Homo sapiens: one gene and its partners. The protein of the gene in region 1 interacts with the protein of each later gene in a pairwise test. Each region holds a gene or a part of one and is shown on either strand. Other genes may lie near its edges.

What was found. The genes of interacting proteins can lie anywhere in the genome.
Region 2: the proteins of CORO2A (region 1) and DCC interact in a two-hybrid assay, tested with the Homo sapiens proteins (one large-scale study listed by BioGRID and IntAct).
Region 3: the proteins of CORO2A (region 1) and RSPH1 interact in a two-hybrid assay, tested with the Homo sapiens proteins (one large-scale study listed by BioGRID and IntAct).
Region 4: the proteins of CORO2A (region 1) and DLC1 interact in a two-hybrid assay, tested with the Homo sapiens proteins (one large-scale study listed by BioGRID and IntAct).

The regions. Positions count from the first base shown.
Region 1 is NC_000009.12:98,129,298-98,134,586, forward strand, and holds part of CORO2A (coronin-2A), read right to left. Parts: intron 3,921-5,289; coding exon 3,741-3,920; intron 3,005-3,740; coding exon 2,888-3,004; intron 1,763-2,887; coding exon 1,658-1,762; intron 594-1,657; coding exon 497-593; intron 1-496.
Region 2 is NC_000018.10:53,532,148-53,536,416, reverse strand, and holds the end of DCC (netrin receptor DCC), read right to left. Parts: 3' UTR 518-4,269; downstream 1-517. UniProt on the Homo sapiens protein: Receptor for netrin required for axon guidance. Mediates axon attraction of neuronal growth cones in the developing nervous system upon ligand binding. Its association with UNC5 proteins may trigger signaling for axon repulsion.
Region 3 is NC_000021.9:42,486,208-42,490,773, reverse strand, and holds part of RSPH1 (radial spoke head 1 homolog), read left to right. Parts: intron 1-4,312; coding exon 4,313-4,403; intron 4,404-4,566.
Region 4 is NC_000008.11:13,504,835-13,509,400, forward strand, and holds part of DLC1 (rho GTPase-activating protein 7), read right to left. Parts: intron 1-4,566. UniProt on the Homo sapiens protein: Functions as a GTPase-activating protein for the small GTPases RHOA, RHOB, RHOC and CDC42, terminating their downstream signaling.

The DNA.
Region 1 (5,289 bases):
TTTTGAGTAGGGTTAGCAGGGTGCATCTTTCTCCAGTCCCTTACTTTTAATCTAGCCATGTCTTTATGTTTAAAGTGGGTTTCTTGTAGATTACAGAAATATAGCTGTGTTTTTAATCCTCAAGCACACTTAGAAAGGAACTGAGGACTGCTTCCTAGAGGCTCTTCTAGGTCAGCCCTTTCCATCTCTGCTCTTGTGGTAACTGCTTAACCTTGACCTAGAACACATCCCTCTCTCCCCTGCTGGGCTCTGCTTCCTCTTTCAGTTCCTCCAATGTTGCCTCCTCTGAGAAGCCTTCCCTGACTTCCTCCTTTGTGCTGTTGCACACGTCAAGTACAGCCCCCACCAAGTCAGAGTGTTGCTATGCTGTCTCTCCTCCCATCTGACTCATCCCTGTCTCCCCAGACCCCGCACTGAAGCCCTGACCCTGATTCTCCCACCTCGGCCTCCCGAAGTGCTGGGATTACAGGCATGAACTTCAGTGTCCCTCACTTACCGATCCCCTTCTGTGGGTTATAGGAGCGGTACTCAGTCAGGTAGCTCAGGTGAGGCTTGTCGGCGCTCACCTCGTAGTAGCGGATGTTGCCATCTCCCTGAGGAGGAGGAGAAGGAAGAGGAGGGTGAGATTCAGAGCTGGAGCTCATCAGCTCATCAGCAACCCAGCCATGCAGCAAAGACCTGGCTTTTTTTGATGATCGGCAAACCCATCTCACTCAAGGGAACACCAGGAAACTGGGGGCCCTGTCATCAAGGCAGGAGGGTGATGAGGGGATATTCATTTTATTTTAGATTTTATCTTATTTTTTTGAGACAGGGTCTCACTTTATTGCCCAGGCTGGAGAGCAGTAGTGCAATCACAGCTCATTGCAACCTCCTGGTCTCAAGCCATCTTCCCGCCTCAGCCTCCCGAGTAGGTGGGACCACAGGTGTGTGCCACCACGCCTGGCTAATTTTTTATTTTTTCATTTTCGTAGACATGGGGTCTCACTATGCTGCCCAGGCTGGCCTTGAACTCCTGGGCTCAAGTGATTCTCCCACCTTGGCCTCCCAAAGTGCTGGAATTATAGGCATGAGCCACTGTGCTGGGCCTGGGCCCTTATTTTAATATTCAATCCTCCCCCACCATGACCCAAAGCCCACCCTTTTTCCTCTAAGACAGAAGCTCTGGGAAGACAAGTCCAAATCCCGCTCCTATCTGAGAGCAGCAGCAAAAGTCAGAACTGGGGTGGCCTCAGAGGTCATCCAGAAGGTCTTACCATGGGGAACATTTCTGGTTGTCATAATGACTTGGATGGAGGGGGAGAGATGCTGTTCTTGGCACTGGTGGGCAGGGGCCAGGGCTGCCAGACATGGGATAGTCCTACCCAGTGGAGACCTGTTCTGCCCCCAGTTTAGCAGGTGCCCCTGCTGAGAAACACCAATGGTCCCCCCACATCTGGGCCTGGAGTTGGGAAGAGACAAGGTCAAGGTGTCCAGCCAGAGCCCTGGCTCCAGGTGTTCCTAGGGAGCCAGGAGGGTGGGAGGGGTTCCTTCTCACAGGGAAAGAGTGGCCAGCGAGGCCTGCCCATCCCTGCCCTGTGTTCCCAATGGCCCCAGGCTGCTGTCTGCCGCTGTCTCAGGGGTCCAGGAGGTCACCTCCCTCCCGTGCCAAGCCGACCTTCCCCACCACGTAGAGCATGCTGGTGTCCGCGTCATAGAAGGGAAACAGCACGCCCGAGGAGCCGTCCAGGTCCTCCTCCATCAGAGGCACAGAGAGGTTATCCTGCAGGGGAAGGGGAGGCAGGGAAGGCCTGGGTCACTCCTGGGGGCCCTCAGTGGTGCTCCCGGAGATAAGAATTGCTGCCATGGTGCTCTGGGCGAGAGTGTGTGTGTCAGAGAAAAAGTGTGATTTTTTTATATGTGTGTGCGGGGGGAAGATGTCCCTGGTTCTTGAGTTCCAATGTGTGGGCTACTCTCTAGTGGAGATGACATCTTAAAGGCACTAAAATGCTGCTGCCACCTATTTTGTCAGCTTTCTGCCCTTAACAAATCACTTTTTTTTTTTTTTTGAGACAAGGTCTAACTGTCACCCAGGCTGGAGTGCAGTGGTGCGATCATAGCTCACTGCAGTCTCAAACTCTTGGGCTCAAGCGATCCTCTCGCCTCAGTCTCCCAAATAGCTGGGATTATAGATATGCACCACTGCACCCCGCTGATTTTTTGCAGAGATGGGGGTCCTGCTGTGTAGCTCAGGCTGGTCTCGAATTCGTGGCCTCAAGTGATCCTCCCGCCATGGCCTTCTGAAGTGCTGGGATTACACGCGTGTACCACCATACCTGGCCATAACAAATCACTTTTGACACACCCGATCTCATTCCAATCTTCCCCTACCTGTTTTTTAAAATTTATTTTAATAGATGAAGAAGGAGACTCAGAGAGAAAATGTGATTTGTCCAGTCTTTGAAACTCTGTCAAATGCTCCCTCAAAATACTACCGCCAGCTTGGCCCTCACCCTACCCTGCTCCACCCTCAGCTGTCCCAATGAAAGCTCCTTCTCCCCATACCCGTTAGTACCTCATTTGCTCCAGGTGCACCCTCAGCCCAGATGGCCCTCTCCTTCTCCCTTCCTCCTAGTCCTGGTCCCAGACTCAGCTACCTCCCCTCCTCTAGCCAACGGACTCCCCTGGGTCCTGACCCATCTCCCTCCTTGGGTGGCAAGATACACAGGGTCTGGGCTCGCCCGGGGCTGTCAGCATCTCCCTGCTATTCATCCCCGGATCCCCAGCACCTGGCAGTCTACGCTAAATGTGTGTGTCATAAATGGGTGTCTAAATGAATGCATGCATGAATGAATGACACTGGCTCTCAGCTGAGGGGTGATGGTGAGGGGTGGGGTGCAGCCCTCACCTGGTCCCACAAGGCCACCTGCCGGTTGTTCCATCGGGATGTGCCTGTGGACATCAGCTTCTTCAGGTTCCCCAGAAACAGCACTTTGCTGGCCCGGTGCCCTTTGTAGCTGGCCTCCTGGAGGGACACGTGCGGTCGGTATTGGAGAGACAGTAGAGGATCGGGGGCAGCTGGGGTTTCTGGCCTCCCTGCTTTGCTTATGCCACCGCTCCACCTGGGAGGCCTCCCTTTCTCACCCCAGCTCTGCCTGGAGATTCTTCCCAGGGGCACCACCTGGATCCCTCTCATCCACATGGAGTCTCTCCCCACTATCTTTGTTAAGAGTTATTTTTCTGAGCAAGAACAGAAACAAACTTCTGCCCAGCGCCCTGTTCTTGCTGAAAGAGTATTGGGCATCCCTACAGGGGCGGGCACTGTCACCTGGCCTGTCTTATCTAATCCTTGGAGAGGAAGGACTAACAGCCCATTGTTGCAAATGAGAAAACAGAGGCTCAGAGCAGGAAGCGCTTGCCCAAGGCTGCACAGTGGCTAAACAGTGGTATCGTCGGCTCTCCTGACCCCCTGGCCAGAGCTGAGGCACGCCAACAAGCTTTGGAGTCAGACCAGGTTCAGATCCCAGCTCTCCATGGGGGTGAGTCATTTCATCTCTCACGGGCCTCAGTTTTCTCATCTGCAAAATGGAAAGGACATATCCCACCTTCCAGCAATCCCGAGAGGACAGACAGGGATGCTGCCTGTGAAGGCGCAGCCCAGACGCTGACAGCATCACTGTCCTGTTCTCTGAAGCCTCTCTCTGTCCCCACTCTGCTCCTTGCTCCTCTGAGCCTGAGCCAGCCCCTGGCCCAGAACTGACCTGGAGGACGGTCCCTGCTCGGGGGTCAATAACCCGAATCTTGCGGTCTTTGCAGGTGGTGGCCAACAGGCTGCCGTTGGTGTTGAAGGACATGGAGAGGATCACATCTTGGTGACAGCTAATCGTACTCATGGGGCTTGTGATGACAGACTCCTTTGTATCCAGGTTCCAGATCATCACCTGCATGGCAGAGAGCCAGCTCTGAGCACAGGGGCCACCTTGCCCCTGGGCCTCATAGTTACATGCTGGCCAGGATGCAGTGAAACACAGTATCCCTGGGAGGGTGGCGCAGCTGGCAGCCTGGCCAAGAAGCCTCAGTGGGAGGATGATGTGCAGGCTGAAGCTGCTTGTGGCAGGAGGGGGAATCCCAGGGCCAGGCTGTCTAGTGGTGAAAGGAAAACGCCACCTGCCTCTGAGCAACAAAACATCCATGCTGGGAGGACCCCAGGGAACCAGCTAATCCAGGCGGTTTCAGTTATTAGCAGCAGTTTGCACCTCCCACAGATCAACAGGGCTGTATGTTTAGCTGCACAGGCTGTGCATGCAGAGGTCCAGGGCAATCCATTCCTATAGACTAGGACGTGACTAGTGCCCCCTGAAGTTGGGTATAGAACAACCAGCACAAATACACGCAGCAGCTCTGCAGACACCCCATACAAACAGATGAGAAAGCGCTGTGGATCGGAAGAGCGAGGGCCCAGGTTCCCTCAGTGCTCCCCACAACAATTTTAGTTATTTATTTTTGAGACAGGATTGCCCAGGCTGCAGTACAGTGGCATGATCATGGCTCACTGTAGCATCAACCTCCTGGGCTCAAGTGATCCTCCCACCTCAGCCTCCTGAGTAGCTGGGACTACTTGACGCATTTTCCCACACCTGGCTAATTTTTTCTATTTTTTTGTAGAGATGGGGTCTCACTATGTTGGCTGGTCTCAAATCCTTGGGCTCAAGTGATCCTCCCACCTCAGCCTCTCAAACTGTTGGGATTACAGGTGTGAGCCACCATGTCCGGCCCCCCACCTCCCTTTTATCCAACACAGAGGGTCCCGAGGTGTCTCTGTAAACCCCTATAGTGTCAAAAGGAAAGAACTGAAAGGCCATAGCTATGGTGCCACCAATTCCATTTGTGTACAGATTGGGAAACTGAGGCCTAGAGAAGTCAAGGCACTTTCCCAGGCTATAGTGCAGGTCAGAGACTGAGTCGGAATAGAATTGAGGTCTCCTGTACTGTGGGTCCCAATCTACAGGGCCTACTGCCTGCATGCTTGATTGTCAGTGGAGCAGGGTCGGGGGAACGATTTTCTGGGCAGTGCCATCCCATCCACTCCGGGCAGGCTATAATGAGTTGAACAGGGTTCCCCCCAAAACTCATGTCCACCTGGAACCTCAGAATGTGACCTTATTTGGAAATGGGGTCTTCGCTGCTGAAATTAGTTAAGATGAGATCATAATGGATTAGGTGGGCCCTAAATCCAATGATAGTTGCTCTCCTCTTCCTATAAGGAAGACAGGTACACAGAGAGAAGGCCGTGTGAAGACAGAAACAGAG
Region 2 (4,269 bases), on another chromosome or scaffold:
TCCCGGGTTCACGCCATTCTCCTGCCTCAGCCTCCCAAGTAGCTGGGACTACAGGCGCCCGCCACTACGCCCGGCTAATTTTTTGTATTTTTAGTAGATACGGGGTTTCACCGTTTTTAGCCGGGATGGTCTCGATCTCCTGACCTCGTGATCCGCCCGCCTCGGCCTCCCAAAGTGCTGGGATTACAGGCATGAGCCACCGCGCCCGGCCCTGCTTCTCTCTCTTGCTTCCTCTCTTGTTATGCGATCTCTGCACATGTGGATTTCCCTTTCCTTTCCACCATAAGTGAAAGCCGCCTGAGGCCTCACCAGGAACAGATGCTGGCACCACACTTATTGTACAGCTCGCAGAACCATGAGCTAATTAAACCTCTTCTCTTTATTAAGTTACTCAGCTCAGGTATTCCTTTACAGCAACACCAATGGACTAAGAGAATGAATCTTAAGGATACAGACAAGCAAGGTTGTGGTTGTGTGTGTGGCACAGCATTTACTATAAATAACATGAAAAAAGAACTTTGTATCAAAACTTTATTTATTAAACAAAAAATGCACCATTGGAATAACATTTCTATAAAAAAATGAATATGAGACTGTTCTACAGTGTTTACAAAACCCCCTTTTCCTTGTGTAGTAGTATACAAGATCATGTGTAGAAACAGTCATTGTTTTAAACTGTAAGCAAGTTTCCTTTCTTGTAGAACAAGATTTACACTTAAATATTGCAATCACTAGTCTAATTTGGTTAACAATGCTAGAATCTGACAGTTTAAAGAAACTTTTTGTAGGCTCAAAATACCTTTTTGTTAAAAAAGGTGTTTTGTAACAACAAAAAATTTCTTTTCTCACTAAGGCTAGTTAAAGCTGTAGTATACCCATTTCTACCAAATAAACTTATCACTAGCACACTAACAATCTGTTTGAGTTGCAAAGCCCTTTGAATGAGTAGCACTGATCTGCAAAATGCTTTCAGAATTATTTAGGTTTGGTGTTATCTTCTTTGAATGACCCTAAAAAGGGAGAAGTGGCGATGATGGAACTTCAGTGAAGGCTTTGCCTGGACTGGACATCTCTTCATACTCAGCAATGGACAATTCATTTCCAAAGTGGTCCCTCTGAGGTATGGAACACTGCAGCTTTAACAGCCGTATCTAGATCCCAACCAGATCTCCCTTTTTATCATAAATTATCCAAAAAGAAGCCACTCTAAATAATAAATTAAATATTACTTATAAAAAGTACACCCCATACCCGCCCACCCTTCCCCCAAACAAGCTGACAATTCACAAAGTTCAGAATTGTCAGATTTACCCTACAATAATAAAAAACAGCATTTCTCCTCCTCTCCATCATTCCTTTCTTGCATCTGAAAATACATGTTCAGCACACAGTGAGATCCCTTGGCCCATGCCCCTGTGTTTATTAAATCTTGCAGAGTTTTGCTCTTGCTCTTCTACCAACAACAATCATAGGATGACAATGTACAAAGGCTCTCTATTGAGAGTAAGAGAAAAAAGTCCTTCAGAGAGTGCAACTGGAAGTCTGCCACGTGAACGTTATGCAATAGTGGCAACGAAGAGTCCAGATGAGTAGTAATATTCATTTGCTGATATGGGTGTGGTATTTTGTCTTTTACATAACCTCACTGACCAGGAAATTGGCATTTTTTTTCCCAAATCAATACTTTTTGGCAACAGGTATTTAGATAGCAAGATACATTGAGGCATGGGTACATATATTTTGCATTGGAATGGAATATCATACAAAACACCTATCTATGATTTTCCCAAGTATCCAATTTAATTTTAAACACTAGACTCAAATAAAAAGCTTTTCTGTACAATACTAAAGTGATTTCTGAAAGTCACCAGAGAAATGCAAATTATGAGTAAAATGTTGCTTTGAATGTGATTTACAAAAACAGAGACTTGAGTGTATGGCTGCTTCTGCATCTCCAGAAAGTTGTGGGCTCTGTATAGTATATGGTTATGAGCAGGTTAGGATAGTAACCTCTGGCCTGCAGGACTGCCTGTGGTTGCATGAAGGGAACTGAGTGAAAGGGAAAGTAACCCTGCTCTGCATCTATTTTAAAGTTCAGATGACTTTGTTTTCTTTAAACATGCCTGAAACTAGACAATTTTTCCATTTTTCTTTCTTTCATTGACTAGAAATGTACATTCCGAAACCATAAGAATTCTGGGACACAATTTTATCTAAAATGGTAAGATGTTATCTTTAGAGGTAACCTTTTGTTGTAATTACAGTCCAGCTGCTATATCTGAGATACCATATTACATTTGGGGACAACCATAAGATGATTATTTAAACAAAGTCAACAGAAGTACCCAAAGGGTGGATAAGTATCAGCAATCATCTTCAAGCACAGACACCAACAGCTTCCAGAAATACCTGTACTTAAGAGATTCTTTATTGGAAAAGCCAATAAGTGCCAAACATTTTAGTTTCAGAATGTTGTCTGAAACATCACACTAGCACAGGATGGCTCTCCTTGTGTAGCTGGAACCAAAGCAGGAGATTGAACATACACCTAATTTTGAATAATCCCTATTTTGAGGAAACTAAGAATATACTCAACAGGAATCCTTAATAAATCTCCACTTATATCACTGGCTTGGTATTTTTTTCAGCTCATTCAATTGAGTATGCATTTTATAATACCCAAATGTAAAACTTCATTATTTAAATATTCTAGAAGCTTATATCTCTGTTATTCAAAGAGGCAAGTATGACTGGTTTCTTATTGGCTATGATTCACTACGAAATATTTAACTTTTGGCTAGAGCATCATCCAAATATTCTTTATACATTTGAACTATCTAAATTTTTATAAGTTTCACAAATGCAGAAATTTCTGCAGAGGAGAGAAAATAGCTTTCTTATTAGGGTGAAATTTAAAGAAAAATACCATTTTTTTTAAAAAAAAGAGGATGTTGCCTGACATTTAAGCACATTACAGGGCAGACCAGAGAATGCTCTGCCAAATATGATTTTCTTCTTTTTCAGGGAGAAATGAGTTCTGGTGGCAGAGCGGCTGGTTGGCTGTCAGGTATCACCCAATGGGAATCAGAGAGAGTTATGAGCATAAAGAGTCCTGGATACCATGAACTAGACTCAGTAGGAGGAAGTCAGAGGCTAGTTTGCAGTATTCACAGGTTTCTTCTTGTCAAGAGATCAGGAGACTGGGAAATTAATAAGTTACCTGAAAACTTGGGCAGGCAATTATATACATATATGAATCATTTGAGGGTAAAGGGAACAGAGTTATACAAAAGTTGTGGTGACATCATTGTATATTAATACTACCAGGTAAATGATACTAGAGTTTTTTGAGGATGTTTAAATTGATTGTATTATAGATTAAATGCATGGTGCTAATACTGGCATTGCCAGTTACTAAGACAAACCATTCTATTTAATGAAGAAAGTTTCAAAAGCATGCAGCAGAAATATAACTTCCACTGAAGACAAATAACATGTATTTAAATGGATTTTTAAAAATTTTATTTCCTAAATAATTATTTTTGACTAGAAGGATCTAGAAATTTGTGAAAATGATAGGTTTTTTTTTTTTTTTTAATTGGTCAACTTCATTCTATAGATTGAAGGTGTGACTCAATCCCTAAAATCTGAGATTTGCAACCTATTCCAAACTGAGCACTCAGGATTACCCTCGTGGGTGTCAAGTGCCTAAGGAGAATGTTCCATGTTTGCTAGAATTAGAAAGGGGAGGTAATAATTCTTAGGGCCTAGAGAAGGTTGGGCTAGCCCAATGAATATTTTCTTTTTTGAAGTAATGGATTATTTCTGAATAATTCAATATTATGTTAGGAAACACTTTATTCCAGGTCAGTAGAAGGTTGTCTACCTAAGTGCCCAGATGTTAAATAAGAGTAGTCTGTCCCATAGAACAACATCACATAGCTCTTCAGAAAAGACTTCCAGAAAATCTGAGTAACTTGAATGAGCACTCTTGTTGAAGGAACAAATTCGCAAATGGACCGGACTTTCTAATGAACCATTTGAACAGCCCTCTCTTTGACATCAGATTTCCTTCCCGACATAAAACTGTAAAAAAATAAACTGAATTATTACTTCTGTTACAGTGCCATTTTGCTCAAAATATTTTATTCAGGGATTCATATATAATTACCCACCTAATAAAAGGAGCTATTAGGTTGTAAAGATCCTATCCCTTCCATGCTCTTTTAAAATTATGACCTACTCAAGCTTGAAATCAAAGGCAGAGCT
Region 3 (4,566 bases), on another chromosome or scaffold:
TTTGCATAAGTTCAGGTGTGGTCAAAAGAGTCTCATTTTGAATAACAAAAACATTTCTATCAGTCAGGAAATGTCAAGGGTTTTAGGAGCTCTGTGCTGGGAACCATGAATAAAGACCAATATTTCTTATTATGCCACACTAACATATAAAGCTCTTCTGGTAACAGTTGGGATTTTTGATTCTCCAGATGGCTTTGTATCTTAAAGGGTGCAAGATTTAGCCACTACCCAGAGATTTCTTCTCTGACAAAAGCTTAAATAAGTGTCTTACTTCATGAAGGCAGCAATGGAAACTGAGGTCAGAAGTTATAATATTAATTATAACATAGTAAGCCAATACTCTTCCAATCACAAAATCTCAGTTAATGTATGGCTGAGTTATTCATAACAGTGTATCTTGGCTGGCTGCCATCACAATGGGCCAGAATGGTTTTGTGCAGGGCAGTGTGTTCAACGTCAGGACCCTGTGGCATAAAGTCCAGTACCCTACCTGTCTCCCAGATGGTCACACAAGTCCAATTAGGGAGTCCAGGAGCCAGCAGAGGCTATAGTGCTGCAGGAGAGGAGTGGGGAGACGGTCCTGGGTGGCGGGTGACTTGGATACAGGCAGGAAGGCCGAGGTTTTTAGGGGTAGTGGGGGATGAGATGGAGGGGAGGGTGGGTGCCAGATGTGGGGGAGGCCTAGACCCCATGTACTGATGCTGAGGGTTGGGGGTGTAGGGCCAACTGAGGACTCTGAGGTTAAGGGGGAGAAAGAGCATCCCTATTCCCTGCTGGCCTTGTTGCCTGTCAAACAGAACTCATCAAAACAAAGAAGTTTAAGAATGACATTGTGGAGAAAGAAGAATGACATGATAACTTGAACCTGGGTTTTTTGGAAGCCCCCGAATGGCAGGAGCTGGAAAAAATGAGCACTTGACTGTTGGGATGCTTGTGGAGAAGAGAGCATGGTGTTAGACAGACTCCAATTTTCATTTCAGTCTTGCTACCCACCAGCTGTGGGACCTTGGGGAATGCATGCAGTCTCTCTGCTTTTCAGGTTCTGCATCTGTAAAACCATATTTCAGCGATTACACATACCAAATGCTGTGGCAAGTGCACGGAACCCTGCCCAGGGTCTGACACCGAGTGTTTCCCCATAAGTGTGGGCTCCTTCTCTCCTGTGTTTGGCTGACCCAGCAGTTTAGGGAGCCAACTTGGCAAGACCATGGGCCAGCATGGCAAACCAGTGACCAACCAGCATTTGAGGGGGGAGGAGCATCTTGGAGAGCTTCTCATTTTAAATTGTCTTCAATCCCAAGTGCCAGACAAACTGCTCTACCCAAGGAGCACCTGCTCCACACCAGCCAACTGACCCACAACCAGCCAATCAAACAGCCAACCAATCAACCAACCAGCCAACTGACTAGCCAACCAAGCAACCAATCAACCAACCAATTAACCAACCAACTGTCTAACCAACCAACCAATTAGCCAACCAGCCAACCAACCAACCAACCAACCAACCAGCCAACCAGCCAACCAAACAGCTAACCAATCAACAAACCAGTCAACTGACTAGCCAACCAACCAAACAACCAACGAACCAGCCAACCAAACAGCCAACCAATCAACCAACCAGCCAACTGACTAGCCAACCACCCAGCCAACCAGTTAACCAACCAACCAGCCAGCCAACCAACCAACCAACCAATCGGTTAGCCAACTAACCAACCAGCCAACCAGCCAACCAACCAACCAACCAGTTAACCAACAAATCAACCAACCAACCAACCAACCAACCAACTGGGAGTTACTCCTGAGAAGAAATATAGTTGGAAAAAACCTCAGTTGACAAGTTCAAGAATGATCAGAAAGTATAGGATTGGGGTAGAAAGACTTTAAAAAAAAAATTAAGTGCAAATTTAAAGCCACAATAATAAAGTTTACAAATGTCACTCACCTCAAAAAAGGAAACTTGACTTATAGCTGTTAGAGATGTGCCTCAGCAGGTGACTTTTCTCTGAATTACCTTCTCTATTTGTGCAGGGTCCCTGTGGTGGCATTACAAAATGCTGGGCCGAGCCTCTTAACAGGTTTTTTAAGTAGATTGGGACTTTAAAAAATTTTGCTCACCGTCCTCTTGGTGCAAAATTTAGTGTCTTTTGCAACTTAACTGTTCTCTTTTATTTTTGAAATTTTTCTGCAAAATATGTAATATATTTTTCTCACCATGACACCCTGGAGATCCTCTGACATGGCCAAGAGAGGAGGGATGTAATAATTTTGTCATGAAGTTTTGTTGGGAAGAAACCAAATGATGTACCTGTTTCAGCTGAGGTCTCTATGCCCCAGGGCTGTGCTGGAACCCCCTCATAGTAGCTCACAAAAACCCATTCTGTGCATCTCTTCCCAGCTCCATGTGTAGCTTGAAATTGGCCGCGGTGTGAGTATTTACACCACAGAACCTGGCAAATGTTACAAATCCAGGCACATCACTGCCCCTTAAGACCCAGACAAATCCCTCTAGGTATTTGCACATCCTCATGGTTAATTTAGGTTCAGGGACCTGAAGTATTTTTTACTGAATTATCTCAATTTGGGGATCTTCATCTCTCTTGTTCACATTGTTCCTGTCACACATCACATCATGGGACCTAGTCCTCTTCCTTAATTGTTAGCAGTTGCCACCTTCCCTCTCTCCATGAATTTTTGGTAAGCCTGCTCTTTTCTGAATGACTTACCCACTTTTTGAAATTGTGCCATGCAGCTTTTCGTGCTGCCTTCCCTGTCCTCAGCTGCTGCTCAGGTGCCAACCTTCCATCCTCAGGCTGGTGCTCGCGCCCTGGGGACATGCACTGTCCTTTGTACAGCTCTTCGTTCATCTCACAAAGTGCCCAGGACATTGTAGGTGCTGAGTAAATAATGGGATGATTGAGGAAATAAATATGTAGAAGTTCCTTCTGCAGATAAATTTTGGGGTTATTCACATAAACAAATATTACTTGAATAATTAGCATTTTCTTAGCCTATTGGGTATTCTTTATCTTCATGTGGAAGTGGGTCCAGTTTTTGTGTAAGCCAGAAGCTTATGTAAGTTTTGAGAACCTCTTTAAAAAAAAGAAAATATAAAGTTGGTATAAAAGTGAATTTTCATTTGCAATGATAAATCAAAATAAGTTAAAAATTTAAAAATACCACAAACATCACAGAATCTAAGTAGCCTGAGTTTTAATGTCTGACATACTTCTAGAATAGCTTTTCTCTACCTTTGTTAGCTAATACTCTTTGAATGCTTCTCCATATGGCAACCATTTTGTAATGTTTTCTATAGAGAGAATAGAAATATAATTCCTTCTTTTCTCTTTGATCAACAAATTGATCAACATTTGCTTTTTATTATTCATAGTCTCAAAACATATCATTTAGCTTAATGACTTGGTGTAATATGCACGTTTTTAAGAGCAGTCACCTTTGGGAGACCTCTATTAAGTTTCTTTCCTAAGTGAGCTGTAAGATTTGAGGACGTTTTGAGTTTTCTAGTGCAGGGATTCATACTGTGGTTGACAAAAGTAGTTTGCAGTTGTCCACATCATGGAGTGGTATTATGAATTTTATGATATCCTTGCCAATTTCAGTACTGCCTACCAAGCCTATAAGGACTTAGCAGAAGCCGTATGGAGGTGAGGAGGTGAGGGAAGAGTTCAAACAGAGGCATGGCACCAGCGGATGGAGCTGGTGTGCAGCTGGGGTTAGAGTGGCATGTTGGAGTCAGATGATTGGGTGGGAGATAGACTGAAATGCTGCCAGGTGGCTGAGGATAGATGGTCAAGCCCTGGAGTTGTTGCTGGATCTCTAAACATTTGCAAGGTAAATGAAGTGTGGTGTTAGGATCACTGGCAATGGGTCAGACAACCTTGGTTTGTCTCCCTCCTCGTTGCATCTTCGTGGTGCCTCTGACTAACCTGTGAAATGTGCTTGTCAGTACATGCAGGTGGCTGTGGCCCACATCCATACACCTCACTCTGTACCCCGTGAACTCCTGACTCAGCCCTCTCTTAGCCCACTGTCCACCGTGGCTCAGCACCTATGCCATCTGGCACAAAAGGAAGGGGTGGAGGGATGTCAGAGTGGAAACAGATAGCAGCCTTGGTCGGTGCTGTTAAAAATCTCTCTTCTGCAGGATTTCCTGAGCAGAAGGGGCCTGTGTGTGCATGGGCTTCATTTGCTTCACAACACATCTGCCTTTGCCATGGTTAACAATTTGAAGACATGGTACAGGGCATCGATCCCTTCTTCTCACCTGGGCTTGCCTTTGTGTTGTTCCTTTCAGGAGAGTGGGCAAATGACCTGCGGCACGGCCATGGCGTATACTACTACATCAATAATGACACCTACACTGGAGAGTGGTTTGCTCATCAAAGGTTCGGTTTCTATCTTGGGTCTTAACGGGATTTGCTTATGTAATGAGAACATGATGTCTGCAGATTGTTTACACTTACTGAGGAACAGAATCATAACAAAAGCCCAGTTACCAACTCTGCCAGGCAGGTCCAATCTTTCTATGGCTTTGAGGCAAGGATGCCT
Region 4 (4,566 bases), on another chromosome or scaffold:
AAACACAGTGGGAAAGACATGGCAAAAGGAAGCCAAGAATTCAGCACAAGTGAGGAAGGTATAGAATTTTCAGGATAAAAGTTGTGTAGCAAGTCCAGTGGTCAATCATTTCACATAACTCCTAAAGTTGTCTCTGGGAGATGTCTCTAAAAAAAGGGAAATAATAAATTATATATGACATATTGAGAGGAATTTTATAATAAAGTCAAGCAATTTGGATGGAAGAATTATTAATAGTTATAGAGAACACTAGGGATATCAATTATCAACCACAGGAAAAATAGTTTTACAAGAAGGAAAATATAATTATAGTATACTCCATAAGCTGTGGCTAATTTTTTTCATGTAGTCAAAATAATGCAAATAGTAAACATTAAATTAACCAAAACATATGAAGCAATGATTTTCAGTGCATAGGATTCTGTGAGGAGTGAGATTAGGGAGAGCAGGGAAAATAATTTAAGGGAGATAGTCACTTTCTGTAGCAGGAAGTTAACAGATAATGTTTAAAATAGAAAAAAAAATCATAGTACAATCATATTGTTTAGAAATACAGAGTTAAATATCAGAAGACATAGCTAAAAATAATTTAAAGTATTATGATATTGTGTGCCATTTGCTAAGAAAGTCTTATCTCTGGATTTCAGAATTCATGCTAAAAATAATTTAAATTTTAAAATGTTCTACAGCAGTAATTTTAAGGTTAAGCTGATGCATAAACACGACTGCAGTTCTTCTGCAATATGTCTGGTGGGGCCAAACCATTCTTTTTGCCCCATTCCCCCTCACCACAGCATCCCCTCGCAATTACACAAACACCAGTCTCATGTACGTAGCAAAGAAAAGGTGCCAGTTTGGATATTTATCTTATGTCACCAATGTCAGCACAATTTCTATGAGATTCTTAGGTCAGTTCTTTCAGTTTCCTTTCCTTCCCTAACTCTCCTGGGGAATTCCTGAAATTTGGAACAGGTATTCTTAGGAATTGTCTAAGCCATAGTTTTCCTAAAATGTTATCTGAATAGAAGTTTAAGATACATAAAATAACATATAAATAGCATTACATTAGTACATGCACATAAATGGGGAATTCTCACTCAAATTCCCACTTTTCCTGAATCCCTCACTCACAGTACTTGGAAAGATGGCAACTTTTGTATTCATCCCATCAAATGCAGGTATCTTATTTTGTCCTTTGAGAATACATGTGATACATATATGTGTGTGTGTATATATAAAGCAGTCCTTTGAGAATACATGTGATACATATATGTGTGTGTATACATAAAGCAGTCCTTTGAGAATACATGTGATATATATATGTGTGTATACACACACATATATACACATATGTATACAAATACATGCACACATAAATATGTATATGTAAACACACACATATATATAAATGAACACGCTATTGACTTCTGGGTTGTGAGAGTGTGTGTGTGTGTACACATATATATTGATATAAATAAATGAACACATGATTGACTCTAGGATATTCTATTAAATATCCTGAATATTTAATGGAAGGGAAAATAAAGACATAACAGTACTGCCATTTTACTTTTCTTTTCTTACTTCTTCCTTAGATAGCTAGAATTACTTCTGGTTTCCCTTAGAGTTTTTCATCCTGATTAGCCATCCCATGTTAAATTTCTAGGTCGTGTTCTCCACCTACTGCTTTATACACATACACACACATGGACACACACACACACACACACACATGTGTGTGTGTGTGTATATATATATATATATATATATATATACACATATATATACACACAGAGAGACACATGCACCCAAATATATATGTGTGCATATGTATGTATATAAATATACACACACACTTACATAAAACAGCTATCGCATAGCATGTGCTTAGTCACTGTGGGAAGGAAGAGAAGATGTAAGGGAAATAATCTCATGTTAATTAAACGCAACTTAACAGTTTCTAAAATGCTCTCTCAGCATATGAACGAAGAAGAAGACACCTCTACATTTGGCACATTTTGTTGCTACGTGGTGAGGGTCACCTTAGTAAGATGCATATGTTGGAAACCTGAATATCTGGTAATGATATGAAATCTTACTGTATCTTAGCCTACTCTTGGGGACTCACACTTGTACATCGTATGTGCCCCCAAAACACTTACTGAATTGAATTAGGCAACTAGAAAAGACGATCAACAACCTGGAAACAGACATGATCACAGGAGCACAACTTAATATAGTTCTTCAACTCATGTCAAAGTAAATCTTCATTACAAAGAGCATTTGTGGAAGCCAAAATGAAACCCATTTTCTTAATGATAATGTCAAAGAACAAATTACCTAGCAAACTAAATTGTGTACATTTGGGCGCCTTCCCACTGGCACACAGCTCAGTGATAAATGAAGAGGAATGCTCTTTACGACCAAACTGACTTGACATATGCTTAGAAGCCAGAAAGCCCAGGGAAGATATTATGTTTCTTAATTCCTTTATGTAAATACACAAACAAATAGCAAAAACCGTAAGAGCACATTTCTAAAAAGCATTTCTATGAGTCTAGTCCAGACAGCCAACTTTCAGTAAAAAACAATTAGTGTTTTTCCTTTAAAATATTCATGTTATCTAATCTAAATTAGACAAGACTAGAATTAGACTGTGGGTGGATAAACATTTAATAACATGATGCAAGAATTTACCTCCATATGATTTCATGCAGATTCCCTTTCTTTAGTAGCAATATGTGTCTTAATCCCACACAAAATCATTATTCCTCTACTTTTACATACTTTGTTTAATGCTGGAATGTACTTGTTATACCTCATTACATGTTAGTGGAAAACATGAATCCCTGTTAAAAGTTTTATTGGCAAATTGCTTAATGGAGATTAAAATATTATATATGAAGTAGCTTCCATGTCTTTAGGCTGTCTGGAAAGCATCAAAAACTTTACCAAATTAAAGAATAAGTCATCTATAATGAGCCAAGTAAGGGGAATAAGTAGTGTTTCACTTTTTCCAAAATACACATCCAACGTTCCATCAGGTTTAGTCTTTAGAAGAAAAATGAAGAAATAGGTACCCAGCTGAAAAATATTATTTTATTGTTAACCCATTTTTAGGTATATCTGAGTTTTTACTCAACTTAAAACATTTTTTTTATTCTTAGCCCTCAGTGATTCAGGCAAATTTGAAAGTTAACTCTTTCAATCCACTAGAAGTCAGCTCATGAGAAAAGAGCAGGGTGTTGCAAAACTGCAAGCTATTATTTCAGCGGTGCTCTATTTTTACGTCCAGGTTGCTGCTATTTAATGTCGCTTCCAGTAGTGTCTAATTTTCTTGCAGAGAGGAGAGCAGATACTGGCAGTGTTTGACTTACCACCCACTTTATGGCTCAAGCCAGCCAGATTTGGAGATTCTCTTAACATTTTCTTAAGCAACCCGCATGTAATTTGAGGAAACTGGGAATATTTTATGATATTCTCCTGATATCACTGAGATCTTTCTGGGGATATTGGTTTCTAGGAGATCCCAGAATTAACAGAGCCATGTGGGACAATATTGCTTTATGGATGTAGTAACTTCTTTTTCTTTTTTTTTTTTGAGACGGAGTCTCGCTCTGTCGCCCAGGCTGGAGTGCAGTGGCGCGATCTGGGCTCACTGCAAGCTCTGCCTCCCGAGTTCATGCCATTCCCCTGCTTCAGCCTCCTCAGTAACTGGGACTACAGGTGCCCATCACCAAGCCCGGCTAATTTTTTTGTATTTTTAGTAGAGACAGGGTTTCACTGTGTTAGCCAGGATGGTCTTGATCTCCTGACCTCGTGATCTGCCCACCTCGGCCTCCCAAAGTGCTGGGATTACAGGCGTGAGCCACCACGCCCGGCCAGATGTAGTAATTTCTAAGTATCTATGTTTTATTTGGATCTCCATGTTTTATTTTTTTTTAAGTATGCAATCTTCTTAATAGTACTGTTTGATCCTATGCAGAATAATTTGGGCATTTACAAATACATTGTACCTTAGATTAATTCTGCAAATAAATTCATTAATGAATAATTATCTTCTTTGCCATAATATCTCTTTTCTGTAGAACCTCTTACAATAAAGAGAAGTATTGCCTTTCCTCTGATCTTGTTTCACTTGAAATTTTTCATGTAACAGGAAATAGCCTAGGGTTAAAGTTGATATTAAACGTGTGGCTGACCTTTTTATTATTGATGGCAAAGCAGTATGATTGAAATGTGGTTTGCTGTATTATAAAAAGATATTTTTATTCAACAAGGAACACGGATTATAATGTTTTATCATCATCATGGTGAGATGCGGTTTTGCTTTAAGTGGTCACTTTATTTTTAGCTTTGCTATCATTTCTAAGAACACTCCAACAGTAGACACAGTAATCACTCCGCGTAAATAACAGATATAGCTACATCAACCCAGGTGCTCAGATAGCAAGTTGACAGTAGGGAATTACATTTTTAGTCATTCCATAAGCACAATTTTCACTGAAATCAGGAACAAGATGTCATTAGGAACTTAATTACTTCTGTTAGCTTGGTGTCCTACCT